Linked DNA regions of Homo sapiens: all the other regions are linked to region 1. Evidence: fine-mapped expression QTL. A gene starts in region 1. Each other region holds a variant in brackets. All regions are shown on one strand. Distances are from middle to middle.

Region 1 (4,067 bases):
CAGTCCAAAGCAAGCTAATAATATTTAAAGAGTTAAAAGTGTAATATAATCATCGGTCATGTTTCTACAACCAAAGAGAGTTGAAAGGAGTCAAATATCAGCATAATGCAGATAATGTACTCACTGGCATTGTGGGCCTTTATTATTTGGATAATCATTTTCACCTTGTGGAGACTTTTCCAGAATTATATACTTTTATGCCTAATCAGCAAATTAGGCAGTTGAAAAGTATGTATGAAGCAGCTAATATGTGCCCCAATTAGGCTAGGTAGTGTGGGTATATAAAAAGGGTTTATAAAGGGGGAGGCTCCTATTCAAACCTTAGTGGGGTCAGGAGATGCGGAAGTTAATTAACATATATTAAATATTTTTTTACTCACCCACACCTAGAGAAACAGTACTGTTTTAAATGTGCTGTAGGAGTTCAGAGAAATACTGATTAATGTGGTTTGGAATAAATTAAATAATAAAAAGCTTTGCTGAATACAGTTAGTTTAAAAAATATAAAAATATAGGGGGATTTGCAGAGAAATCTGTTCAACTCTTAAAATAATTTTTAATTTATATATGTTTATATAAGAATTCCATTTTATTAACATGAAATACTAGTACCTTTTTTTGGGGATGGAGTCTTGCTCTGTCATCTGGGCTGGAGTGCAGTGGCGGATCTCGGCTCACTGCAACCTCTGCCTCCTGGGTTCAAGCGATTCTTCTGTCTCAGCCTCCCGAGTAGCTGGGATTACAGGCGTGAGCCACCACATTCGGCTAATTTTTCTATTTTTAGTAGAGATGGGGTTTTACCATGTTGGCCAGGTGGGTCTTTAACTCATGACCTGAAGTGATCCACCCGCTTCAGCCTCCCAAAGTGCTGAGATTATGCGTGAGCCACCGCGCCTGGCCCAGTACTTTTACTGATGAAAAATGTAATGTAAAAGGAAGGTCTGTCTTACATACAATAAGTGCTGAATCTGGGTCTTTTTTAAAAAAAGTCATTGAGAAGACTTACTCCTTTCTTAAGTTTTAAGACATTTATTATTGCAAACAGAAAAATTGTACTAGATACCGGGGATATATAAACGAATAATGCCGTTTCTGTCTTCAAGATCTTACTGTTTGGTAGGTGGAAATAAAGTGAACGAACGAAGGCACTGCAAATCAATGTGGGAGGCTCTATAAGCATGGGGCCACAGAGGAAAAGGCTGAGAGGGAAAGCTTCAATGACTAGGTGACTTCAAAAAGGTCATCCTGGCCAGGCACAGTGGCTCACACCTGTAATCCCAGAACTTTGGGAGGGCCAGGCAGGCGGCAGATCGCTTGAGCTCAGGAGTTTGAGAGCAGCCTGGGCAACATGGGGAAACTCTGTCTCTACAAAAAATACAAAAACTAGCCAGACATGGTGGCGCGCGCCGCTCCTCCCAGCTACTTGGGAGGTTGCGGTGGGAGGGTCACTTGAGACCGGGAGGCGGAAGTTGCAGTGAGCAGAGATCACACCACTGCACTCCATCCTGGACGACAGAGCGAGACCCTGTCTCGAAAAACAAAAGACAAAAACAAAAACAAAGGTCATCCTGCAGGACAACCAGGAGGGCACAAATGTGTGTCTGTGGGAAGCTGAAATGTTGGCGGGGGAAAAAAGCAGGGAAAGGCATTCCAGAAAAAGGAAACTGTAAACAGCACACGAAAAAGCATAGTGAATGAATAGGAAGCCTGAGACCAAACTTAGGGTTTCCTACACTTATTTCAAAGCCCTTCATTATCTATATGGAAAGGGGGAGTCTTTAAACACAAATATTTAGATCATATTGACTGAGATTTAGATATAAATGAATGCTAATAATTACTTTTCGTTATTTTGGGGTGTTAAACATTTACTGTACAAGATTGTATTCGTTTTAAGTATCTTCTAACATGAGCCATTTTGTAATGATTCAGTTGTTTATATTCAATTTCAAGTAGAATGCTGATCACAGCGCCAAATGGGTATCTTCTACAGAAAAAGTTATTTTAATAAAGAAAAATATAGTCAGTTTTAGGATTTCCTGAGAGATTATAGAAACAATAAAAGCATTAAAACTGTTAAGTCATTAAATACGAGTACCTTGTATTTTGAAGGCTCTTAAAATTTAGTTTATAAATTGCTTTTACATAACATATGCACTGAAATACCACTTAAGATTAGTTTTGAAAATAGGTGTTCGTTTCAACCACATCATTAGGTATTTTATTCAAAGCTCTTTATAAAAAGAGCTTTACTATGTTCCAGTATAGTAAACTTATCCAGAAAATAAGACAAAAATTTAACTTCATGCTATAGCTGCAAAGTTTTCGGAAAGCGGGATTTAAAACTTCCATTGTAACTTTAACTAGCGGTCATGTCAAATTTCACAACTAAGAACATTTTAACGCATGTAATACTGAGCACAACATGGGCACGTTTTTGTTGCTATGAGAACCTTCTATTTTGTATTAGACATTGCAGCCTTGACGACGCAATGTTTGTGCTATTTTGCGCATGTTTTCCTGCAGCTATTCCTCTCCTCTAGCAATAGTCGAATGGCTCTGGTTTCCTCTTGCGCCCGGCCCAGTTTTTCCGTTTTAGCTTCGGTTGTCATAGGCTGTGCTGTCGCTTTCTCTGGGAAAGGACGGTGAAGACTGGACGGGAGAAACCGGGAGGGCAGGCGCGGCCGTTCTGCAGCAGCCGGGCCGCTTCCCGGCGGGAGGCGGGCTGCGAATGGGAAGCGGGAGGAGGAGGCCGGGCCGCGGGCTGGTTCTATCACCCCCTTGGGAGCCCAGCTCTTCACCTAGCTCTCCGGCGCTTTTCAAAATCTGCAGTTAACAACAAAAATCGAGCAACGCCACGTCGCACAAACAGGACAGGAGGGGGCGAGGGGTGTGTGCGCGCGCGTGCTGTCCCCAAATGGATGAGAAATAAGGGAAAGGAGGGGTTGGGGACCGTGTGATGAAGCAACATGCTAGGCCCGGGACAAGTCCGGCTCCGGCCTCGGGTCTGGAGGGACAAGGCCGGGGGCCGGGTGGCAGACGGGGCCTCTGGTCTTCCCCCAGCGCGAGGGTCGTGGCGCGAAACGGGGACAGGGCGCGCGCTCGGAGCCTCCTCCCCGCCCCGCCCCGCCCAAGGGTCTTCCTCCCCCGGGATTCAGAGCGGCCCCTCCTCCAGGCCAGGCTCGCCGCGGGGCGCTGAGCAGGCCGGGACACCGCGGCCGAGGTTATCGTTAGGCATCTCCCAGGCGACCGGCTCCGCAGCAAGATGGCGGACGAGAAGGACAGGGAAGGTAAGGTAGGGGAGCCGGGGAGCCGCTGCCCTCGCCGCCCGCCGCGACCCCGGGCTGCACGGGGAAGCGCCGGGTGGGGTGGGCCCTCGTCCATCTGGAGTTCCCACCCGCAGGGAAAGGGCGGCCTGAGGAGGGGGCCACCCGGCAGCAGCAGTCGCCCTGCCCCCGTCCCCGTAGCCCGCCCGGCCCGCCGCTCCGCCCCGCCCCGCCCCGCCTCTCTCCCCCGCCCCGCCCCGCCTCTCTCCCCTCTTCCCTCCCTCTTCTCTCTCCCCTCCTCCCGCCTTCTTCTTTCTCCTCCCGCCCTCTTCACCCTCTTCCCCTCCTCCCGCCCCGTCCTCCTTCCCCCTCCCTCGGAGGCCGGGCCTTGCATCCTGCGCGGGCTGCGCCGGAGGCGCCGGCAGGGGGTGCTGATAATGGCGTCGTTGTTCACGGTCGCGGGGAAGCCGCCGCCGCCTCCACACTCTCGCCTGGGGTCTCGGTGCCGCAGGCGCCACGCCCGTAGCTGTCCAGGCTGTGGGCCCCGGGGGGTGGCCTGGGTGAGGAGGAGTTCTGGCCGCCTGAATCTGACGGGATCCTCTGTTTGCGCCGAAACCCCGCGCTGGCGCAGCCTGATGGCGTTCGCGGCCACCATTTTGCCTCCTTAATGAGGACGCAGGAGGACGGTCTGGAGGTCACAGCCGCTGCCTCCGAGCTTCCCGGTCCTCCGAAATGCCTGCCCCGCCGCCGGCTAGCGCCGCGCAATTGGCCTAGTGTCTTGTCTTAAAAAAAAAAAAAGAC
Region 2 (4,067 bases), 710 kb after region 1:
CGGCCCCCAAGAATGGTGCTGATGTCCTATTTAGGGTCCCTAAGCACAGGAAGGCTGTGATGTGCCTTATGGAGAAAATCCATGTGTTAGACACACTTCTTTCAGGTAGGAGCTACAGTGCTCATGGGGGTCTAGTGTTAATGAATCAAGAATACACACACCCAGAAAAAGGAAGAGGAAGCGCACAGGGCAGCCAGCTTGATGTCACCACGTTACATCCTTTTATCCGGTCTTTGGTAAGTTTTCTTTTCTTTTTTTTTTTTTTGAGACAGAGTCTCGCTCTGTCGCCCAGGCTGAAGTGCAGTGGCGCGATCACGGCTCACTGCAAGCTCCACCCCCCGGGTTCACGCCATTCTCCTGCCTCAGCCTCCTGAGTAGCTGGGAATACAGGTGCCCGCCACCACGCCCAGCTAATTTTTTGTATTTTTGGTAGAGATGGGGTTTCACCGTGTTAGCCAGGATGTTCTTGATCTCCTGACCTCATGATCCACCCACCTCGGCCTCCCAAAGTGCTGGGATTACAGGCATGAGCCACCGCGCCCGGCCGGTCTTTGGTATGTTTTCTTGGGGACTTACACAGGGTCACGTGGAGATACAGGGGGATGCGCCTTCGGCCCATCTGTATGTGGGGCCACTCTGGAAAGTGCTAAGGTAACAGCTATAGTACATGAGGAAGCCATGGAAGAGATGAAAAGTGGCTGAATGTGTGGATTCATCAGATGATGAGAACATTTAATGTAATAGATAGCATTGGTGTGAGGCTAGACACCAAAGAAATGTACAATCATGTTACCCAAGGGAAGGAAAGTATTAAACCCTTCTTGGCTAGTGTTTTATTTTAAAGAAATACCAAATATAATTCATTATTTTGAAGAAACGTATTAAATAAAGCATCTTATTAACAAGGTTACGTATTGACCAGTTGAAGAAACTTTTGTCATCAGAGGTTCACAGAAACCTAAACCATACGTTAGGTTGGTGCAAAAGTAATTGAAATGGGCCAGATGCAGTGGCTCACACCTGTAATCCCAGCACTTTGGGAGGCCGAGGCGGGCGGATCGCCTGAGGTCAGGAGTTTGAGACTAGACTGGCCAACATGGGTGAAACCCCGTCTCTACTAAAAATACAAAAAATTAGCTGGGTGTGGTGGCGCGTGCCTGTAGTCCCAGCTACTCCGGAGGCTGAGGCGGGAGAATCCCCTGAACCTGGGAGGCGGAGATTGCAGTGAGCCGAGATCGTGCCGTTGCACTCCAGCCTGGGCAACAGAGCAAGAGTCTGTCTTAGGAAAAAAAGAAAGAAAAAAAAAGTCATCGAAATGACAGAAACCGTAATTACTTTTGCACCAAACTGTATTTCCCCTAAGAACAATGGCCCAGTATTTACAAATTCAGTGTTCACAAATATTTTATAGAACACAGCTACCATGAATAACAAGAGCTGACTGTATATGATCACAACCTAACTGAGCAGAACTCACCCTCCACTACTCATGTAAGACCTGACTGTATATGATCACAACCTAACTGAGCAGAACTCACCCTCCACTACTCATGTAAGACCTGACTGTATATGATCACAACCTAACTGAGCAGAACTCACCCTCCACTACTCATGTAAGACCTGACTGTATATGATCACAACCTAACTGAGCAGAACTCACCCTCCACTACTCATGTAAGACCTGACTGTATATGATCACAACCTAACTGAGCAGAACTCACCCTCCACTACTCATGTAAGACCTGACTGTATATGATCACAACCTAACTGAGCAGAACTCACCCTCCACTGCGCATATTGAAGACAGAGCCCAAGACGCATCCAGGTGCAACGTCTCTGCTAAGAATGTGTGCCAGGAATGGGGCCTGGCTTCCTCGTCGAGTGCGGCTGTCCGTGGGTTTCTGCTAGACAGATAACGTTCTGAAGGAGTTAAACTTTCACAGCTCCTCCTCCTCCTCCTCCTCCTCTATATCCCTTACCTCGCCACGTTCATCACTGGTCATTTTGCTGGAAGGGAAGCCCTGGTATATTCTTACATTGCTCTGGAAGTGAGCTTTAGCCCAGCGTCGCCAAACTTACACCTTAATTGATCCCAGATGAGAAGGAAAAGCTATTGCTCTTACCCCACAGTCTTCCCTCCCTGAGGCCAGAAGCAGGTCACGTGTA[A/G]AATGGTCTGCTCTCTGCTGACAGTGGCCTGAGTCTCCCATAGTGTCTGCTGAGCTGGATAGTCCCTCTCCAGGGAGCTTTGCAGGGGATGGGTGATGAGACATGGACATGGGGACGAATTCCTCTCATCTGGAATCGCAGACACAGCATGGAGATATGAGCACGCGGCATGGGAAATAGGCTTCCTCAGCCCTTCAGGATCAGGGAACGTGCCAGAGATGCAATGACATTTGGCAGCAGTTGAGAGTATGAGTGCTGTTGATGAAATAAACAGAGGCCTTTAAAAGCAAGGCAGGAAAAATGCTGGGACGAGTACAGGAACAGAAAACCAGCCATTTCTCCAGGTCTATTCAAAGACGTAGCAACACTCCCTGCAAACCCCAGGGCCTCATTATCACCACTCAGGGCAGTGGCCCCGCACAGCACCTGCACAGTTGCCAGAGGAGGCCTCTCTATAGGAAGTGCTGCTTTCTGTTGTGGATAGAGTGACTGGCTGGGCCTCTCTCTGTGTTTCTCCCCTAGTCTTCAGGAATATGAATGCCTTTTCCTTCAGTGCTACTAGGTGCAAATATGCGAGTTAAGGGACAATGCCAATAAAGTAGCCGCAGTTTCCTGGCTAAAGGAACTGTGCAGGTATTAAAAACCCACCGATCTTTAATCCAGGTTCGTGGCAGGGGGACTCCTTTTTGTTGCAAGATTGTCTGTGTGTGGAAACCCTGGAGAAAGGCCACACGTGCAGTCAGCAAGCCGAGTCACCAGGCACAGAGCCCTTTCTCCTGATCCCCTCCTCTTGTTTCTATTCCCAGGCCTCATTATGTATAATGTCACAGACACACACGCCCAGGAACATCCCATCACAGCCAGGACAGAAGCGCCAAGGGAGGTGCTTTGCACAGATTCCATCTTGGAGTTAGAAGCACTTGCTCGGTGCTTGCCAACTACAAATAGCCCCATGCTGGAAAATGATGCTAATTAGTATGCCATTAAAAAGGGTGGGGGGACCACCACCCACAACAAAATGGCCGTGTGCAGGCCTGAAGCCCTGCCCTGAGGGCCACAGGGAAGCATGGCCGCTAATGCAGCCTAATTCACTTTGTTTGGCAGAGAGAGCAAGCTCGCCATGTTGCTGCGGGAGTCTCTGGGGAACATGAACTGCCGTACCACCATGATCGCGCACATCTCGGCCGCGGTCGGGAGCTACGCGGAGACCCTGTCCACCATCCAGATTGCATCGAGAGTCTTGAGGATGAAGAAAAAGAAGACGAAGGTAAGGAGCTCGCGGGGTGGGGGGGTGGTGGATGAGGGAGCCTTTGGAGCCGTGCCCTGGAACAGAGTCAGAAAAAGCCAAATCAACGTTGCCAATCCCCCAGCATCAGGAGATGTGACTTGGAGCTGACAACACGTGGCTCAGGGTCCACTTTGGGGCAGGGAAACCTTGGGGCTGATACAAAGTCATGTCACCTCCCCACACCTGGTGCTGGCCCTGGTCACCCAGCCTGGACCCCTGACCGGAAGCACTTGGTCCGCTTTAGAGAGTACAAATGGATTGCTACCTCAAGAGGAAAAACGTTGGAGGGATGGAAAATATTGTTTTTCTCATGCATGGCCTCGGTCCTGCGTAGGTGGAGACTGTGTCCTTCGAAGGCTTGGCACCAAAGAGGTTCTCAACTCCCTGCTCTCAGGGCCCCTCCCCTGCTGCATGTCCAGGAGTCACTCCCTGGCTGCTGCTTTTGTCCTGGCAATTCAGTGGTTTCTGGATGATACTGAGTCTGCTGGACATCGCTGGGCTCATTTTCTCAGGCAGAGGCCAAGCCAGGATGGTGGCAGGGTGGCAAGTAGTTGAGAAAACCATCATGATCGTGGCCACTCAGTGGCAGGGGCAGCTGCTGAGGTGGGGGCCT
Region 3 (4,067 bases), 550 kb after region 1:
AAAAATTAAGTATAGTCATGTGTCACTGAATGATGGGGATGTGTTCTGAGAAATGAATCATTAGGTGATTTTGTTGTTGTTTGAACATCATGGAGTGTACTTCCACAAATCTAGATGGTATAGCCTCCTACACACCTAGGCTAGAGGGTAGGACTGTTGCTGTACTGAATAGTGTAGCCATTTGTAACACAATGGTAAGTATTTGTGTCCCTAAACATATCTAAACACAGAAAAGGTACAGTAAAAATAAGATTATCTTATGGGACCACCAGTATATATGTGGTTCGTCCTTGACTGAAACGTTATACGGTGCATGACTGTATTTGGTTTAGCCCATGTTTTTATTTTGAAGAAATGCAGAACAAGTTTAAAATTGAATTGTTGAATTGTTGTCATTAGTTGATAGCCTAATAAGAACATATTGTTCAAGTACAAGAATATCATTGATTTAATTACCCTGAAAATATAATTTTGAAAAATATCTACATTTTTTAAAAATTAAATTTTCGTAGTGTAAACTAAAATTAAATACTCAACTAACTGAGAGAGAGAGAGAGAGAGAGAGAGAGAGAGAGCCCTTCCCCAGCTAGTCTGGCAGCAAGTGATTTCTAAAGGCCAGAAATAGGAAAAAAAAAATAATCGAATCAAATTGACTTTTGGAATTGTCCTTATGAAGCACAAGTCTACAACCTTTAACTCATAGAGAACACAGTGAGCATATCTGCTTTGACTGGCAACTTCAAAAAACCCCTCTCCCAGAGGCTTGGGAAAACACATGTTGGACACAGACTAATGATAATGTGGAACAATTATTACAATGAACACAATAATTGTATTTGTTTTATGAACATGATAGCCTGAAGAAACCCATACCAAGAAATATTTTACGTGTTGTCATCATTAAGAAGTCAGCAAACCTTAAAGACAAACACAATCTATTCATCCATCCATCCATCCATCCATCCATCCACCCATTCATCCATCCATCCACCCATTCATCCATCCATCCATCCATCCATCCATCCATCCACCCACCCACCCATCCATCCATCCATCCATCCATCCATCCATCCATCCATCCATCCATCCATTCTGTAAGTGTTTATTGAGTATCCACTGCATAGCATGCACCATTCCTGGCAGTTAAGAAAATAAAAGGCCTCACTCTCATGGAACTTACATCAGAAAGGGCAATATTAATGATCAGCCCTGACCACATGCCTTTCCCTATTAATGATCAGCCCGGACCACATGCCTTTCCCTTAGGGAACATTGTAGGATGAATGTTCCCTGTGGTCTGAATGTTTGTGTCTCCCTCTAAATTCATAAGCTGAAATCCTAACCCATAAGATGATGTCATTGTAACATTGTAGGGTGTATTTTAGTTGGTGTGGATATGGAGGCAGAAAAGCAAGGATACTGGTGAACCTGGGGAATGCTTAAGAGGTTGGACTGTGCTGTACCCGTTAAAAAGCAATAAACAGGCTGGGCGTGGTGGCTCACGCCTGTAATCCCAGCATTTTGGGAGGCCGAGGCGGGCGGATCACGAGGTCAGGAGATCAAGACCATCCTGGCTAACACGGTGAAACCCCGTCTTTACTAAAAATACAAAAAATTAGCCAGGTGTGGTGGCGAGCACCTGTAGTCCCAGCTACTCCG[A/G]AGGCTGAGGCAGGAGAATGGCGTGAACCCGGGAGGCGGAGCTTGCAGTGAGCCGAGATCGCACCACTGCACTCCATCCAGCCTGAGTGACAGAGCGAGACTCCGTCTTAAAAAAAAAAAAAAAGCAATAAACAGAATCTCATGCTTCTATACAATAAAAATAACCATCTTCCCTATAGATGATGAAGAGTCTGTTAATATAATCTGACAGGCTTGTTTTGGAAAATATTTAGATACTTATACATCCAGATATATTCCAAACCATAGCCTTGTAAAACCTCTGAGCTAGCGCAATCCTTGAGTATAAGTCTACCTCCACCTAGACCAATGTTTCCAAACCATTCTGTGGCTGGGAAGACTGGAAGGACCCCCAGGCTGACCCTGTTGGGAAGACATGCAACAAGGCTTACTTCTTCAGTGGTGTCAGTGATTTTGAGCCAGTTCTGACCATCCACTCATCCGTCTGTATTTGTGTAGTGCTCACTATAGACAAGGCAATTTTGGGGAATGCAGTTGTAGGAAAGATAGACATGGCTCCTGACCTTATGAAATGTTCAGTCTTGTGAGGAAGACACAAATAATTACAGCCCATTGTAAGAAGCGGTAAGGTGCTTTTGTACCCTTTTGGTCCATTTTTCTTTTTTTTTGTTTTGAGATGGAGTCTTGCTCTGTCACCCAGGCTGGATGGAGTGCAGTGGTGCGATCTCGGCTCACTGCAAGCTCTGCCTCCCGTGTTCACGCCATTCTCCTGCCTCAGCCTCCCAAGTAGCTGGGACTACAGGCACCCGCCACCATGCCCGGCTAATTTTTTGTATTTTTAGTAGAGACGGGGTTTCACCGTGTTAGCCAGGATGGTCTCGATCTCCTGACCTCATGATCTGCCCGCCTTGGCCTCCCAAAGTGCTGGGATTACAGGTGTGAGCCACCGCGCCCGGCCTGGTCCATTTTTCATCTTGACCATGGACCACGCTGGTAGATGCCTGGGGGCATGAGGGACATAGCAATCAGGCTCTGTCAGCCTTTGTGACCAGCACAACTTATTTCCAGTGCATTAAAGAAAATGATACTGCCTATGCCCAATTTAGATGTGGGCCAGCTGTGTTAGTTAGCTTAACACAGCATTTTGTTTTGCATATGTATTGATTTTGCGCACATGCTCTCTAAGTGCCTCAGAACACTGCCTACAGCATCCTGGTGAGGTTGACAATCAGTTGTCCTGTCCCTGTTCATCTGGCATGGGGACACACTGTCAGAGGAGGAACTACCAAGTAAGTAATTGCCTCCAGCACACAAAAACTGCAGACACATGGTTGACATAAGAATCTAGTTTCAGCTGGTGGTTTTCAGGGCAAAGCAACTGCACTAACAGGAGATTTCCCTGACAGCTGATTTAAGGCTGTGGAAGACCCCAGTTTATCAGCTCAAATTGAGAATGTCCTTTTTTGACTAGAAACGAGACCCTCCCAGCCAACTGCACAACCAAAACTTATATTCAGGATGTCCAGGACCTGAAACTGACATGGGAGTCAATATTCTACAGCCAGTTGTGGTGTCGACAGGGTCTGGGGGAAATCTTCAGAGCTGACTTGTGATGTAGCAGGGCTTACAGCAAAGGCATCCCTTTCACCTTGCTCTTTAGGATTCATATTCTAAGAAGCTGCTAAGAAAAAATGTCTAAACGGAGACACTTAGGATATAGTTTTCATATTAATGTTTTATTTTAACAATAATGGGAGCAAACACCTACCAGGTGTTTACTCTGCGTCAGGAACTGTTCTGATAATCTTATTTGAACTTTGCAACAATTCCATGAGGCTAGCTACTCTTACCATCCTGTTTTACAGCTGGGGAAACTGTGGCACAGGAAAGTTAAGGAACTTGACCATGGCCACAGAGCTCTGAGTGTCAGAAAGAAGATTTGAAACCACACAGTTGGCTTCGCATCCTGTACGCTTGACTATTTCTCTTTTCTGCCTCTCTTGGGAGAACTCTGAAATACTAAAGTACTATATTACTAAATAAATGCTTGCTAAAGCATTTATTTGGTCCCATATTCTCAATTTACACAATTCTTTTCTCCAATCACATTTCATTTTAGACTTTATGAGCCCTGTTGAAGTCATCAGCTTAAAAGTGCCCTTGAGCAATTCTCTACTCTAGATTGAGTTAAACAGAGTATCTGTAGATAATCTAGAATCACAGACAATACCTGTCTTAGTTCCTTTGGGTCGTTATAACAAAAATACCATAGTCTAAATTTATAAACAACGGAAGTTTATTTTGTACAGTTCTAGAGGCCGAGAAGTTAAAGATCAAGAGACCATCAGGTTCAGTGTCTGGTAAGGGCCCACTCTGGTTCACAGATGGTGCCTTCTCGCTGTGTCTTCACATGGCAGAAGGGGCAAACA
Region 4 (4,067 bases), 120 kb after region 1:
AGAAAGGTGACAATCAAGAAGTTACACAGCAGTAAGTGGCTGTATCAGCTTTTTCTAGGTTATATTGTGATAACAAAACTCCCACGTGTCAGAGGTTTGCAAGAATGAAGCTTATTTCTGTTTACGTTTTTTTTTTTTGGTCAGCTGGGGTCATCCTGGACTCTGGCCTACGTGTCTTTGTCCTACTCATGGCCTAGAGAGGTAGGATGACCGTCTGTCCTGCTTTGCCCGTGGTAGTTCCAGACTATACCTGTCCCAGTGTAATTATTAATAGGTCTCCTTTGTACTCTTAGAAATGTTCCAGTTTAGATGATTAATATGTGGTCATCCCATTCAAAAAATAGTGAGTAAAAACGGTGGTGAGGAATCGTCACTTCTGGAAGGCTTCCTGACAGATAATTCCAGCAGTGGTAAGAATGGAAGGCATTTCTTCCTTCTCTAGTTTCCCAAGATCATTTTTTTCCCCAGGATAACCTGAGATTTTCCCAAGGTAAAATCCAAATAGAGACCTGATGTGCCACTGGCTCGGCCGTGCATGCTAGAATCACCAGCCAGAGATGAGGATGAACCGCGTGCCTTCAGGACAGGGCGGAGACGGAGGAGGAAAGGAGTGTGGTGATCCTCGGAACATCAGCAGACAGGCTGTTGATGATAGGAACACATTGCAGCGGGGAAGGAGGATGGCTGAGATATGAAATACCCTTCAAGGTGGACGCATACCCAGGGGCATGTCATTCGGTGGCAGGGGCCAGCACGGACATGCAGCACTGAGGCGTGTGCTAGCGCCCAGTGCGTCGACCCAGGCACGGACTTGTTTGGAGCATACAGGACAGCTCTGCGTTAAGACCTGTAAGCCATTAAAGAAGTACAGTCTGGTGAATGAACCCTAATCTCTTGATGATCAAGTGATGACATCATATTCTGTCTCCGAGGAGACACCCTCTTGCACAGAAGGCAGTAGAGGAAGCTTGCGTCGAGATTGCCTACCTCCCCAGCCCCACCTTCGAGGGTTCTTTCAAAAGTTCGGACTGATGTTCAACTTCACATCTTGTCTCAAGGCAATCCTCTCTGTTTAGTCTCATAGAGTTGGCTTTGTGGAATGTAATTCATTTTTATCTTTAGCACAAATTTGTCTGTTTCTTTTAAGGCCACCAGAAAGCACAACATAGACTCCCCACAGAAATCTCATTTTATCTCCTAAGTTGCAGAATAAACGTACCTTGTTTGCAAAGGGAACATTTTCCTTTACACTCAAATCACTTCAATGTGTATTTTGCCTCTTCAGCTCACTGACCTCGCCCGCAGCATCTGATGTAAGTCACCATATGCCATTTCCCGACTAGGAGAGTGCTTGGCCTCTTGTGCAGGAAGTTTGCTTACCCTCATGACTCCTGGCTTCCGCAGAGCCTGCCATACCCCACAGCTTGGCCGGGCCCTGTGGAAAGCCATCTCTATTCTCACACTGCTGGGGAAGGTGCATGACTCAGGACCCGACACACAGGCCTGAGAGTCTGGCGATCTTGTGCTCTGATCCCAGCTTCATGTGTGACTCACTCTGGATCAGGCGCTTCACTTCCTGTGCACCTCTGTCTGTAAAATAGAGAGCCCAGCTCTAGTCCTTCTCCCTCCTGAGAAGCAATGCAGAGATTTAGTCCCCTTTGCAGTCACCCAGTGTCTAAGTACCAAATGCCCAAGAGACAAAAAAGAGTCCAAGATAGC[A/G]GGCTAGTTGGGATTACGACTGTTCGTTAAGGGCAGGAGTATTTTCTGTGGGATGGAATGTGTTTAGATCTCTCTCTCCTAGTTTCCTGTCTTCCTTCCTTTCGCTTTTCTAAATCCTTCCATGTAAGAAAGTACCCTGTTTATACAGACAGTTCCTTGAAGATCAGTGTCACTACCTTACCCTCCTGGGCTGCTTAAATAAACGGAGAGCCTCATGGGTGCCAGGCATGGTGGCTGCCTCCTAGGCCTGCCTATTTCTGAAAGCATGGTTGCCAATCATCTGCTTCAGGAGCATCTGGAAGGAGGGTGTTAGAAATGGGAGGTGTGCCCCATTCCAGACCCCTGAAACAGAATCTCTGGAGGTAGGGTCCAGGAAACTTATATTTTTAATATTCTCAGGGGATCCTTATGCACGCTTGTGTGTAAAAAGCACTACCTGGGGCTCTGATATTGAATGAAAGTGTGGGATTTGGAGTTAGGCTCTGCTGCTTACTGATTACGTAATTGGCCCAGACATTTAATATTGCTGAGCTTCCCCGGAGGTCGAGGCTACAGTGAGCCATGATTGTACCACTGCACTCAGCCTGGGTGACAGAGAGAGACCTTGTCTCAAAAAAATAAAAAAATATTGCTGAGCTTCTGCATCTTAATTTGTAAAGTGGAAAAAACACTTTTCGGGGCTGGTGTGAAAATTAAATGAAATAATAAAAGTGAAAATGTTTAAAAAGCTGTAAGCTATGACACAAATAATTATTTACAGAAAGCCAGCTAGGCAGAGAGGGAGAGAGAAAAAGAGAGAGGGAGGGGCAGGGATGGAGATCTGCTGCCTGGGTGTGGACAGGGAGGTGGGGAAGTAGGTAAATAATAGAAAACTAATTGGAGAGAACGTGCGCATACCTGGGCTGCTGGTGGGGAGATAGCCGAGGTTTGCTGTCATGGTGCTATTAATTATAAGGCGTTAAGTTTATTTCTAGAATGTGAAAACAGGAGGCCTTAAGAGGTTTCTTTTTTTCTTCTTTTAAAAATGTGCTATCAGTCATGGTACTTTTAGAGCAGCAGGAATTATTTACCTCATCTAGTGGAGAAAACACTCTTAATCATTTGAAGAAACTGTTATTTTTCTTAAAAAAGAAAAATCAGGCCAAGCACAGTGGCTCATGCCTGTAATCCCAGCACTTTGGGAGGCTGAGGTGAGCGGTTCACTTAAGGTCAGGAGTATGAGACCAGCCCAGGCAACATGGTGAAACCCCGTCTCCACAAAAGTACAAAAATTAGCCAGGCGTGGTGGTGCACTTATAATCCCAGCTACTCGGGAGGCTGAGGCAGGAGAATTGCTTGAACCCGGGAGATAGAGGTTGCAGTGAGCCGAGATGGTGCCACTGCACTCCAGCCTGGGCGACAGAGCAAGACTCCATCTCACAAAAAAAAAAAAAAAGAAAGAAAAAGAAAAGAAAAGAAAAATCACAAGTTGAAAAATTGAGGCCAAACCTAGTTCTGTGGAGAAGGAGATAAGATAAAATAGCACACTATGAAAATCGGGCCATGGTTTTATATGTGTGGCAGGTCAAAATGCCAAATATATCTTGCTGGCTCCCCCCACACGCCCCGGCATTAAGTTTTCAGCTATTAGTAAGAAATCTCAAAAGAGGCTTCTAAGCATTTATCACCAAACTTAGGAAATGTACTGAAGTATAGGTGAGTATTGCATGACTTTAAATACAGCTTTTAAACATGTCAAGATGTGTTTCCATGCTCTGAATGCCTAGTTTTAAACTGTCTTGCTGGCTGGTAACCATTCCTGGTTACTAACTCAAGGTATGATCCGCACTTAGGCAAAGCTCACTGTTAATGAGAATAGAGGTAAGTCTATTTTCCAACTAGTCTTGATAATGTTTAAGTTTTCTTAGTTCTTCTTTATCAAATCCGATTAGCCTGTCTTTGTTCTTACACAACATGATGAAGAGCTCATCCTGGTGGAATTGTCGGCCCCACTGTTCTCGGAAAACCCCCCTGTGCTTAGGTGTTGGGATATCTTCAATTCGAGGTTACTTTTTAGGAACTTTTTAAGCCTCTTATCAGTTTTTGAGGACTGGTGTCATTAAAACCAAATAACATCTGCAAATCCTTCACTCAGTTGGCCACCTGTACGGTTAGTGATTGCACGGAAATAAGCAAGGTGGAATGAGTACACGAGCGAAGGCTCCCCGAGCTTCCTTCAGGACAGCCGCCTGCCTTCCTGATACGTGCATTCCTGGTACATGCATTTCTGCTGTATGGACCCCAGGAAGATGTCAATGAGATTTAACTCTAACACAGAACATAAATATAAATTAAAACAAATCCTGGTT
Region 5 (4,067 bases), 120 kb after region 1:
TCAGAGCATTTCCAGAATAAAAGATATGCCATCTGGAAAACATGAACTATCGATCACTGTAAATGAAGGCCTCTTCCTAGATTGAAGATTTGAATAAAGAATATAAAAATTCCGCCCCCCCCCCGGCGCCCCGGCTTTTTTTTTTTTGAGACGGATCCGGTCTTGCTCTGTCACCCAGGCTGGAGTGCAGTGGCGCGATCTTAGCTCACTGCAACCTCCGCCTCCTGGGTTCAAGTGATTCTCCTGCCTCAGCCTCCCGAGTAGCTGGGATTACAGGCACAGGCCACTGCGCCCAGCTAATTTTTTGTATTTTTAGTAGAGATGGGTTTCACCATGTTGGCCAGGCTGGTCTCGAACTTCTGACCTCAGGTGATCCACCCATCTTGGCTTCCCACAGTGCTGGTAAAAATTCCCTTTTAAAGAGCTTTTCTGTCAGTGAAGTTACAGATAATGTAGCCTCAATTGAATACTGAGGTCATTTTTAACACTAAAAATGTCCTTTTTTAATGTTAATTGAACCATATATATTTGTTTTGAACATGGCCCATCATACATATATGCATACACACACATAAAACCTGCACACTTATATATATATGCCAACATATTTCCTTTAGGAATTCTCTCTGCTAGGCTGATGTGTAAATTTGTTTACACTGAAGGTCAGTAGCCTGATGGACAGTCTCCTGAAACCATCCTCATATTGGTCCCCTTGCCTTCTCCCATACAAAGCTAGAGCTCTCTGGTTCACAGACTGGGTCCTGAATGACTCAGAGTTGCTAATCACTTGAGGCAGAATGAAAAGCGCAAGTGATTTTGAGTAGGGAAGACTAAGACTGCATCTACACGCACAACTGGTTTGACCATTCCAGCTTCATCCACCTTAAGGCGGAATACAGAGAGTGAGGGTCAGAATGGCAAGGCCGTCACAGCTGCCACCCAAGAACTCTGACGCCATTGTTAAAATTACCTTCGGGATTAATTCTGATGGGGATGTTACGACTTTCAAAGCATCAGCTTCTTCATCCTGAGGATTAGTCTAAAGAAAGTAAATCCTAGGTTATATATCAGGCAACATGAATTTAGTCAAAATGGCCCAAACAGTTAGATTTTCCTACTGTTGTGTGCCTACTATATGTTTAATATTTAGTAAGTGTAGTAAGGTATAATGATACTTAAATCTACTTCCTCTCTCAAGGATATTACAATCTTATTTGGGAAATAAAACTAACATAAAATAATTCACAATACAAGACAATAGAAAGCTAAATATCAGAAGATCAACTAGGGCTGGCCCAGCCTGGAAAACTTGGTTTGGGAAGACTTAAAGAGAAAATAGGTTTTTTGAGATGGTAGAATGTATATGGTTAAATTGTTGAGGGCAAAGGTAAACTCTTGTGCATTATAATTCTGTCACACATGGTAGATATCAACAAATGTTTGTTGAATGAATGAGTGAATGAGTAGATGATGAAGACCAGGTGAAGGGGCTAATGAGAGGGAGACATTATCGATGTGTAAAACAGTCTGAACAAAAATGGGGAGGTAGGAATGAACATGCTATTTCAGAGAGAAAATAAGCCTAGCTGGCCCAGAGGGTAATGTTGGCAAACAGCAGGAAATTAACTTCAGTAGACTTACTGGGACTAAATTGTGGAGTCCCAGGCTCAGGAGTTTGGAATTCATCCTGTGGGCGATGGAGAAGTATTACAGGCTTTTGAGCAGATGACTCACATGGTGTGTGAGTGATTGTGAGAAGGTTTTTCTGGTGCTGGTCGGTTTGTTAGATGCATAAGAAAGAGGTTGGACTAGGGAGGCCACTTAGAAGGTTATTTCAGCATTTTGAGGGCACCCAAATAAGGGCCTGACCTGGCAGTGGGAATGGCAATGGGAAGAAGGGATTGGTACAATAGGACTGTCTGTGGCAGGATCCATGGGTCATGATGAGTAACAGAGTGTAGGCGACAAAGCTGAGAGCTGAATCCAAAGTACCACCAAGGCTTTGCCCTCGATGGCGAGTATGATGGTAATGAGACTGACTCAAACAGAAAGGTCAGAACAGACCGCAGTGTATACAGAGACAGTGCGACCACGTGGTTTACTTGGAGGTGCTGTGTGATAATTTCGAAAATGGTATGTTTACAGAGAGTTCATGGTACTTAAAGATCAACTATTGAGTATCTCAGCGGACTAAGCATAGGACAGGTATGGTCAAATAAGAATACATATGTTTTCAATTATTCACTCAGCAAGTATTATTACAAACCTTCCACATATATGAACCAATATGTTTGGAAGTAATATGTAAGATGTAAATCTATACAAATCTAAGTTACGATTTAATATAACAGACCCATCAGCTAAGTGTAATAGCAGTTGACTAGTTTGGTAAAATAGGAGCTTAAGAATTGCTGCTTTGAGAGTCTCAGAATTCTACAAATTGTTTTTAAGTACATTTATGCTATATAACAATATGGATTCAAGCTACTTGCACATTC[A/G]TCCTAATATCCACAAAGTATCAAACACACTAGTTTGAGAATATGCATTCCTACAGCCCTGGATGTCATATGATAAAATAAATCACACTGAATCAAGTTCCTACAAGATAGAAGTCCCTAAGTGTCCAGGAATGTGTATTGCATCAGACAGTGTTTAGCAGCCGGGAAGATCTCAGAACAATTTTTTAAACAAACACTTGCATGTTGCTGCTTCTATGCCAGGTACTGTTCTAAGTCCCATTCAAATCATAACACGTTTCATTCTCATGACAACCCTATGTGACAGGTGGTGTCGTTATCACCCCCATTCTAGAGACAGGTAAGCTAAGGTGGGGAGCTGTGAAGTGACTTGCTCAAGATCTCAGAGCTCGTGAGAGGCAGCCAGCATGTGGATCCAAACTTGTGCTTTAACCACTCAGTTATCTTCCTTCCATCTTTCATCAAATACTGGGGCTTCAAGTTAATCCTCTGGTAATTTCAAAAGTTTTAATCTAAATAAATAACCTTGTTCATGATGTCTGTATGTCTTCCTACTGTTTTGCCTGAAATGACGTGTTCTAGAGGTTGCTTGATCTATGACATCTGCAGGCTAAAAGAAGTCCAGAATCTACCAGGGTGTACAATAGCCTTGTCTTTGAACCTCTGGACTGTCGTGATGTCCTGGCTCTACAGCTCCAGGGAGCGTAACTAGTGGCACTGTGGGAGCTTGTGGGGCTCCATGGCTATTAAGCTGGCTAGTGGAAAGAGAAAAAAATCAGATGATCCTAAATGATAAATTTTCCTTTTTGTCTCTCTGAGGTGAGCCTTTTTCTCAAGAGGAAATGGAAGAAATGTTGTCTGCTGCAATTGATCCAGAATCAAATTCAATTAATTACAAGGACTATATAACAATGATGGTGATAGATGAAAATTAAATGTTCTAAAGATAATTTCTGATTGAAAGAACAATTTTAGAAATTGCTTGTTCTTGTTAATTTCACATCTTATCTTAGGATTCCTATATGTGATATTTAATACCTTGTGACATAACTATTTTAAGACACTTTGTTTTTAAAGATGATCGTAACACTTTAAACCAAATTTAGTATGTCTAGCCTTACAGAATGATAAATTACTATTTATTTAAAAACTATTCTTAAAACATTTTAACATTAGAATGGATTGTTGTTTATTTTCTACAATAAAACTCAGGTCACCTTCGAATTAATTAAGCTGACAAAATGAAAATGACTTAATTACCCAAGGTTTGGCATGTAAAGATCTTAAGAGGGGGCAGAACGAACCACTCGAAAACGAGTAGCAGTGTAATGAAGGCTTCTTTTTTAAACAATAACAAATGCTTCATCAATCTGAGTGTGGAAGGTGATTTATCAAAATAAATATTACTAATTTATTTTTTTATGAGTGCCAATTACAAATATCATTTGGGATAATAATAACTTAGTGTAAACATTTATATTTGCTGATCCAGCATGTCACCATTTATGGAGTAGCTAAAGGAGTTGAGATCATTGGAACTAGAGAAAAGAAGGTTGAGTGGAAGTTGATAGTGTAAGGTAGTGGCAATTC
Region 6 (4,067 bases), 590 kb after region 1:
GGAAAACGAATCATACTTCCTCAGAGGGTAATTGTGAGGCTCCAATAACTGTGCTGGAGAAAGTGGGGTATGAGGCCCGGTTTGGGGCTGTGGGAGCACCTCTTCCTTCTGTTGGTCCTAGGAGCTCAGCGCTTGGTGGGATGTTCCAGACCAGGAGAGGCTGGGACTAAAATTCCAGAGTGATCTATGGGTGCAGAAGCTTCAGACGCCTGTTCAAGAGATGGGTATCAGGTGAGGTGAGTCCATATTTAGGTCTCCAGCTAGGATTTAAACCTATAAGGGGAAGAAGCACAGGTGAGCTACAGTAATTTTGGCTAAAGGTCCAAACTGAGGCCAATCTCAGGGCATGTCCCTCTAACTAGAGGTAAGGCATTTAGTCAACAGCCCTCCAAGCTCAAATAGGCAGAGGGTAGAACTGAGGGGGAATAGCAGCTGTTACTAGGAGGCTGGTCACTGGCAACCTTGGGTTTCAGGAGCGAGAAATCCATCCTGGATACTGCGAACGCCCTTGATTCTTAGAAAAGTAGGGTCCTGGCATCAAAGCTGGAGCAGTATGGAACGGATGACTGCTTAGACACAGGGCCAGTGGGTGATCAACTACAGCCTCGTAGATTTCTCTTTGGAGGACTGGAGTGACTCCCAGGCTCAGTAGGGGACTCTGTAGGGGACTGAGCTTGGAGAAGCCCACGGCCACCCTGCCTCCATTCCAAACAAGATTATTCACTCCACTCCTGTTTAGCTGGTCACATGGCTCCCCCATTCCTTGCTCTCCATTGCCCTTAGTCCAAAGTCCAAATTCCCCAGCCCAAGGCTGCAGGGGGCTGGCTCCCTGGCCTCTAGTTCCTGCTTCTCTCGCCTGCCCCCTTGACTCCAGTGAGTAGTTTTTGGTGCTGCAAAGAGGACACACTTTCTCTCACCTTCGGGCCTTTGACCTGCCCGGGCAGGGCCCTCCCCATCTTCCTCCTTTGCTCTGAATTCATCCTTCTTCTTCAAGCTTTAATTTGGATGTTATCCCTTCACCCCGCTTCCCCAAGGAAGTTCCCTCCTGCCCCTGAGGCCTCTTGCCATGCTGGGCTCTAAGTGGGCATTTATTTCTCTGTGCAGAGTTTGTCCTTCTTTGAACCAGGTCCCTCCTGGACAAGGAAGGTGCTAGATACATGTTTGTCTAGCCACAGGGATCAGAGCTCAGAAGGTTGCGGGGACAGGGCATCCTGCCTGCCCTCTCTGAATGTTCACTTTGAGTTACTTCAGTTACTCTTTACCTGGACAACATAACGTCGGGGAAAACTCATTTATTTGCAAAAGGCAAAATACATGACACTGTTTCACTCAGAAGCCCCTCAGACCCAGCATCTCGCCAACCTTTGGGCTTAAGAAGTGGTGAAAAGATGGGGAGAGAGTGACTGAATGCATTTTTCTGTCTAGGCAATTTAGTATTACAGGAGATGCTCTCAAATCCTTGACCGGAGTGAAGGCAGAGTTCTTGTCAGTTATGTAAGAAAAACAGCTCATTGTTATATGATGCACACTGAACACCATCGTGTGTTTTCTCAGTCTTTGTGTGTGCGGACACGTGGCATTTAAATTAAAATTTGGCCAGGCACAGTAGCTCATGTCTGTAATCCCAGCACTTTAGGAGGCCAAGGCAGAAGGATCGCTTGAGCCCAAAGTTGAGACCAGCCTGGGCAACGTAGGGAGACCCCATCTCTACAGAAATTTAAAAAGTAGCCAGCCATGGTGGCACACACCTGTAATCCTAGCTAAGGCTGAGACAGGAGAATCACTTGAGCCCGGGAAGTCTAAGCTCCGGTGAGCCTGTGATTGTACCACTGCACTCCAGCTTCGGCCACAGAGTGAGACCCTGTCTCAAAAATAGAATATTAATTAATTAAAATTTAAGGAATTCTGTTTTTACTACGGTGAGTAACAAGGTTTTTTTTTTGGTTTTTGGGTTTTTGTCGAGACGGAGTCTTGCTCTGTCGCCCACGTTGGTGTGCAGTGGTGCGATCTCAGCTCACTGCAACCCCCACCTCCCGGGTTCAAGCGATTCTCCTGCCTCAGCCTTCCAAGTAGCTGGGAGACAGGCGCA[C/T]GCCCCCACACCTGCCTAATTTTTTGTATATTTTATTAGAGGCAGGGTTTCACCATGTTGGTCAGGCTGGTCTTGAATTCCTGAGCTCATGATCCACCCACCTTGGCCTTCCAAAGTGCTGGGACTACAGGCGTGAGCCACCGTGCCCAGCCTATTTTTGTTTTTGTAGAGATGGGGGGTCTTACTATGTTGCCCAGGCTGGTTTTGAACTCCTGGACTCAAGTGATCCTCCCACCTCAGCCTCCCAAAATGCTGGGATTACAGGCGTGAGCCACCACACCCAGCCTAACAAGGTTTTTTGTTTTGCTCCTGTAGGTCTATTTTTTTTTTTTTTCCAATCAGTATTTTCAATGTTTTGGCTCCAGACAGATTTCAGTGGTGCATCACATGTTACCGACGTGCCTCCCGTGCCTCCCTGTCTGTTCATCTGCTGTCGTCTCTGCCAGGGATGCTCGTCTCTCATTCGTTTTTTTGGCGTGGAAACACGCTGCTCAGTCCTCAGGCCCAGCTCCCGTGTCACCTGCCACCTGCAGGCCTTCCTCTTGTCCCTTCTCCAGGCACTGTGCCTGTGTCCCCTACTCCAGACCGTGAGTTGTGGATGAAAGGGGCTGTATCTTACTTGCCCCTTTTTGCATTTATTCATGTGGATACATAGATGCTCATTCGCTTCAATTCATTGAACATCTGCTACTGGCCAGGGACTTTTTCCCTTTTGGAAGGAGACCCAGATACCCTCCAGACATAGGTCCGGCCTCTCAGGAGTTTTCATTCTCCTGAGAGAGGAGAGAGACTTGTTGAGCTATGCGTGGAGTGCTGCCTGACAGCTTGCTATTTTCTTTCTTTCCTGTGAGATAAAAATGTACCTTATGGTATTACTTTATTTTAATTCTGCCATGACATTTGTGGCGGTTGTTTTAAGATTCAGAGATTACTGGGTGTTGATCTCCTTATGATACTCTCGGTTCCTAATTATGTTAGAAAAAAAAGCAAAGCGGGAACTTGGCTTTTGTGTTGCCTTCACAGAGTGTGGAGGTTGAAAACATCTCAGCGCACTTCACGGAGGTTCTCAGAGACCCCATAAGTTTCTGGAAAAGTGGGAAACGCAAACCTGTCAACCTGTCAGTCTCTCCCCTCTCACGGAAGCCTGACATGTAAATCTCAAGTTGTTAAACCTGCTGTCAAATGAGCTGCCTCCACTGAAGACTCCCCTCCGCTCCTCGCACTCTCATCACTGCCCCTCACTCTCTGTCCCCACAGCACAGGGACAGCCTCCGCAGACTCCCGTGTGTGTGCTCTGGAGAGAAAAGATTCTGGATTTGGGCGGTCTCACCTCCAAAATTGCAGCCCCTAAGGGGAGCCGTGCTAAGGTGTGATACAGGCCATGCCCCTTCTAGCCCCATGGGACACCTGACTGATAGCAGCCTGTGCAGATGTGAGGAACAGAAGGTGGCCCCAGACCCCTTAGGAGAAACCAAAGTGCCTCAGAGACAGGACAAGTGCTACCCCGGAGGCCAGTCACCAGGTGACCTGGGAGCTGGGAACCTTTTCAGCCTATGGGTGGCTGTTTATCACGAGGGGCATTAGACAGACAGGAGGCAGTGCTGAAATTCAACAGCACAAAGCAATTTCCAGCTTCATCTTGGCTTATTAATAATGAAACAGCAATAGCGCAGGCACAAATCAACAGTAAGTAGGTGGGTGGGTGAGACAAGTTGGACATTTGGGGAACAGCCTGGGCAGCTACCGATACAGAGGGAAGCCATTTGGTGTGTGTACCTCCCCTCTTCCCTGGGATAGGAGCAAACCTGAAATGAGAACGGCAGTCATCTGCACACAAAAACTAGGTTAGGAAACTGTTTTCTAAGGGGCCAGGTTGGGTCACTCTTTGTGACAAGAACCGTGTGAACCACTTCTTACCTGTAATTCTGACTCAGCATTGATATTTGAAAATTCTTCCCTAGGGCTGGGTACTGAGTAC
Region 7 (4,067 bases), 160 kb after region 1:
CACCGCACCCGGCTGCTTCCTTAACTCTTGATCTCCTCTCTGTATCTTGCTTTGTCTAGCTGTTCTCTTCTCTCCATATTCATCCAAACATTTGCTTAGAAGTACCCAGAAGCATGGCGTTGAATGTGGTACACCTTGAACGAAGGGTGAAGAAACGAGGCAGAGTGACTTAGTAGCAAGTGACAGCACACAGTTTAAATTTTAATATTAGCCCATTTACAAACAACAGCTTATATAATAGTCATTCACATACCTCAACACTCACCATCCCCTCCCCACTTTTTTTCTGGAGACAGGGTTTCACTGTCACCCCAGCTGGAATGCAGGTGGCATGATCACAGCTCACTGTAGCATCGACCTCCTGGACTCAAGGGGTCCTCGCGCCTCAGCCTCCTGAGTAGCTGGGACCACAGGTGCATGCCACCACGCCCAGCTAATGTTTTTTTTTATTTTTTGTAGAGACAGGGTCTGGCTATGTTGCTTAGGCTGGTCTCAAACTCCTGGGTTCAAGCGATCCTGCCACCTCAGCCTCCCAAAGTGTTAGGATTACAGATGTGAGCCACTGTGCCCAGCCAACATTCACCCCATTCAAGTGTGCAATTCAATGGATTCTAGTATCTTCACAGTGCTGTGCAACTATCACTCCTATCTACTTACAAAGCATTTCCATCATCTTAAAAAGAATCCCCATGTCCAATAGCAGTTCCCCTTCCCCCACCGTCATCCTCGGGCAACCGCTAATCTTCCTGTGTGTCTGTGGATTTGCCTCTTCAGGGCATTTCACATAAACACAATCATACAATATGTGGCCTTCTGTGTCTGGCTTCTTTCATTTAGTGTAAGGCTTTTGAGGTTCATCCATGTTGTAATGTATATCCTTAGTTCATTCTTTTTTGTTAAGCTCACAAATAAAAAGCCTCACTTTTTATTTGAGGCAAGGAGACTGGCTACAGGGATTACAGTTCCAGCAGTCAAAACGCAACTCCAAGTGGCACTATTTGGACCGTAGGTTTTGCTTCATTTTGGCTGGAAAAGGGTATTCAGGATGTACTTCTCCCAGCCGGACAAGAAAAAGGGCAAAGAAAACTGGAAGAGACGTCTCGTCTACACAAACTGCTCTTTGGACACAGCATCAACCTGACCACACCCGTGCTGGCCAGTCTGCAGGTTGCTGACCCGCCGTTAAGGGACACAGGCCATACTACACTTGCTAGAAAAACTGAGGCAGGAAAAAGAGGTGCAAGGCACTGGGGGAAGAGCAGGTACCTATAGCTTTAAAGCTCAGTGTTGAAGGGGTAATCCTTGCAGGAGGCACAGCTCACCAAGACACAGACCCTCCCGTTCCTGTTGTAGCTGACTACAGTGGTCACATCAGGCTGCTCAGTTGAAAGTCGAAGTCCTCCAAGTTTTCAGCAGTGCGTTCCAGCATCACCACCGAAATGATGATAGGAATTACCACCAAATTCCTATGCATGGGAAACCAGATCAGAACCTGGGCTGCGTTTTTATTTGTTTATTTTTTTTACTGTGCTTGGCTGTGATTGCTTTGGTGCTGGGATCCCCCAGACCTGTCACGAGAGCTGAGGGGACTACAGGCAGTCACCACCTTGCCTTTGGATTGGCAGCCCTGGATTAACTTCTCCTGAGGTGGGTGCAGGTGGCACTCACTGTGGTTAACCACTGTTTTTAAGCCAGGTTTCTTTTTTTCTGTCTGTCATATATATATATATATATTTAGAGACAGGGTCTCACTCTATCACTCAGGCCTGGAGTGTAGTGGCATGATCATAACTCACTGCAGCCTCGAGTTCCTGGGCTCAAGTGATCCTCCCGCCTTGGCCTCCCAAAGTGCTGGGATTACAGGCTGAGACACCACACCTGGTCTTAAGCCAGGTTTCTTTACCATCTCTTGGAGATGGCTGCAGTTGGAGATTCCAAAAGCTTTCAGAGCCCTTCATCCACCAGCTCCTCCATGTGGCCACCCATGTGACATGAAGTTGGTGTCACTAGGTACCACGTTGTCTGTCCCATCCAACAGGAAAAATAGCCTGTTGGCCAGTGAATAAGGTAGGAATCCAGGTGGTCCCCTGAGGGTCTTCTG[A/G]CAGGCTCCTTTATCAGGCTCTTCTCATGGTATGAGCACCGCAGCTTGCTGACAGTGGCAACGTTCTCAAGCTTCACAGACTCCGTCACTTGGCCTGGAGGGGAATTCTAGGTGTCCAGCCCCAGGACAGGCATTTTGGCACCATGATTGAGCACGATATGGTGAGCCATCCTCACAGGATTAAGAAGAATTCTGGACAGAAATATAGTTGTAAGTAAGCATCAGTCAGCCTGCACTTTGACCCACTTCCTTGTAACCAACAGTGACGTAGCACTAGGTAACATTTGCATCCCCGTTGTTCCTATAGATACAATTTCTGACCTTAGAATCACAAGGCTTTTGTTTAAAATAGATGGGATCTCTGACATTAGAATCATAAGATTTTTGTTTAAGACTTGCTTAAGATGTTTTTCAGATCCTGAATTCCAGCAAAACAGCCGACACCAACCAGTTTGAAGACCCCCACAGAGGAATGTGATCAGCATGAAAATACAGCTTCGTCTCCCTCTCCCATGACTCCACCCTGCACACTTCGACCAATCAACCATCTCCACACTCCAGTCTCCACTCCCAAACCCTTAAAAACCCCAGCCCCAAACTCCTCAGGGAGATGGATTTGACGTTTCCTCCCATTTCCTCCTTCGGTGGCCCTACGATGAAACCTCTTTCTCTGCTACAACCCTATGCCTCGGCGTATTCACTTTCTGGTCCCATCCAGCGATGGACCCATCGTGGTTACCGTGGCTGGCCAAGCCTGCTGTGCTTCACAGACCCCACTCAGGATCACACCACTTCGTTCCACTGTTTGGAGATGCCATGTTTGCTTATCCCTTCATCAGCTGATGAGCATTTGTGCTGTTTTCACTTTTTGGCTATTACGAAAATGTTGCTACGAGCATCCATGATATTCGCCCATTTAAAAAAGTGTTTTTCACCATTACTGCTGTGGGAAATTTCTCCCTGGCTCTGTCCTTTCTTTGTAGCCCAGCCTTCCCCCAGGTTTTGGCTCTCCCTCTCTGGCTCAATGTCAGCTCCTTGTCTCACCTCCTAGAGCAATTCCACTCTCCCACCTCCTGCTGCGGCATTTCCAAAGCCTCTGCTTAGCAAGGGACCACCCATTCTGCACCTCTCCCCTTAGGGCTGCAAGCACCTGCACAAACTTGGTGGTTATCCTATGCCTCAACTCAATCAAATTCTCTCAGTTTTCCATCAGCAATCTTTTTAAGCCAAAGGGAAGGCAAGGACTTGATCTTCACATCACATGAATCATGACACCTGCCTTAGAAGGCAGAAGCAACTGTAGTTGGAATAGCAATTGTTTTTCAACATATGGGATGATATCAAGGCTCTTTCCTCCCCATATGTCCTGCCCTGTTAGTGGCTGGGGCTGAGGGTTTTCCCAGGAAGCCAGATTGTCCTCACAAGTTCCTCAGGACCCTAGGGCTTCCACAGATAGTAGGACTGTTATCAGAAAGAAGTCTCGATCCAGACGCCGAGAGAGGGTTCTTGGATATCGCCCAAGAAAGAATTCAGGGGGAGTCCATAGAGTGAAGTGAAAGCAAGTTTGTTAAGAAAACAAAGGAGTAAAGAATGGCTACTCCATAGGCAGAGCAGCTCCGAGGGCTGCTGGTTGCCCATTTTTTTTTTTTTTTCTTTGAGATGGAGTCTGGCTCTGTCGCCCAGGCTGGAGTGCGGTGGCACAATCTCGGCTCACTGCAAGCTCCGCCTCCCGGGTTCACGCCATTCTCCTGCCTCAGCCTCCCGAGTAGCTGGGACTACAGGCGCCCGCCACCATGCCCGGCTAATTTTTTGTATTTTTAGTAGAGATGAGGTTTCACATGTTAGCCAGGATGGTCTCGATCTCCTGACCTCGTGATCCACCCGCCTCGGCCTCCCAAAGTGCTGGGATGACAGGCGTGACTCGTGATCCACCCGCCTCGGCCTCCCAAAGTGCTGGGATTACAGG

The links.
Region 2: its variant is fine-mapped to the expression of DRC8 in prefrontal cortex (GTEx, PIP 0.98).
Region 3: its variant is fine-mapped to the expression of DRC8 in kidney cortex (GTEx, PIP above 0.99).
Region 4: its variant is fine-mapped to the expression of DRC8 in fibroblasts (GTEx, PIP above 0.99).
Region 5: its variant is fine-mapped to the expression of DRC8 in whole blood (INTERVAL, PIP above 0.99).
Region 6: its variant is fine-mapped to the expression of DRC8 in cerebral cortex (GTEx, PIP 0.97).
Region 7: its variant is fine-mapped to the expression of DRC8 in whole blood (TOPMed, PIP above 0.99).

The regions. Positions count from the first base shown.
Region 1 is chr1:244,967,154-244,971,220 of GRCh38, forward strand. DRC8 (dynein regulatory complex subunit 8) reads left to right here and starts at 2,529. Exons shown (of 8, transcript NM_032328.4): 1 at 2,529-2,890; 2 at 3,176-3,290. The coding sequence starts at 3,266. LOC124900416 reads right to left here and starts at 3,417. Exons shown (of 4, transcript XM_054328428.1): 1 at 3,173-3,417; 2 at 3,102-3,171; 3 at 1-3,099. The coding sequence starts at 3,384. The coding sequence ends at 2,833. It overlaps EFCAB2-AS1 (EFCAB2 antisense RNA 1), which reads right to left and starts at 3,716. Exons shown (of 2, transcript NR_111907.1): 1 at 3,659-3,716; 2 at 1-2,826. RefSeq lists enhancers at 879-1,383, 3,822-4,067 and silencers at 2,592-2,731, 3,002-3,181, 3,192-3,551, 3,562-3,651.
Region 2 is chr1:245,680,963-245,685,029 of GRCh38, forward strand. It overlaps KIF26B (kinesin family member 26B), which reads left to right. Exons shown (of 15, transcript NM_018012.4): 11 at 3,271-3,433. It overlaps LOC105373265 (a long non-coding RNA gene), which reads right to left. Exons shown (of 6, transcript XR_007066988.1): 4 at 1,783-3,489. Among named protein-coding and RNA genes, the nearest start is that of SMYD3-AS1, 430 kb to the right of the region's middle. The variant A/G (reference allele first, on the strand shown) is at 2,167.
Region 3 is chr1:245,519,573-245,523,639 of GRCh38, forward strand. All of the region lies in intron 4 of KIF26B (kinesin family member 26B), which reads left to right. Among named protein-coding and RNA genes, the nearest start is that of KIF26B-AS1, 290 kb to the left of the region's middle. The variant A/G (reference allele first, on the strand shown) is at 1,660.
Region 4 is chr1:245,090,559-245,094,625 of GRCh38, forward strand. It overlaps a transcript of DRC8 not described here. Among named protein-coding and RNA genes, the nearest start is that of KIF26B, 62 kb to the right of the region's middle. The variant A/G (reference allele first, on the strand shown) is at 1,720.
Region 5 is chr1:245,083,949-245,088,015 of GRCh38, forward strand. It overlaps DRC8 (dynein regulatory complex subunit 8), which reads left to right. Exons shown (of 8, transcript NM_032328.4): 8 at 3,297-3,889. The coding sequence ends at 3,412. Among named protein-coding and RNA genes, the nearest start is that of KIF26B, 69 kb to the right of the region's middle. RefSeq lists an enhancer at 1,163-2,362. The variant A/G (reference allele first, on the strand shown) is at 2,499.
Region 6 is chr1:245,557,471-245,561,537 of GRCh38, forward strand. The region is part of intron 5 of KIF26B (kinesin family member 26B); the gene reads left to right. Among named protein-coding and RNA genes, the nearest start is that of KIF26B-AS1, 320 kb to the left of the region's middle. The variant C/T (reference allele first, on the strand shown) is at 2,090.
Region 7 is chr1:245,122,189-245,126,255 of GRCh38, forward strand. It overlaps a transcript of DRC8 not described here. Among named protein-coding and RNA genes, the nearest start is that of KIF26B, 31 kb to the right of the region's middle. The variant A/G (reference allele first, on the strand shown) is at 2,102.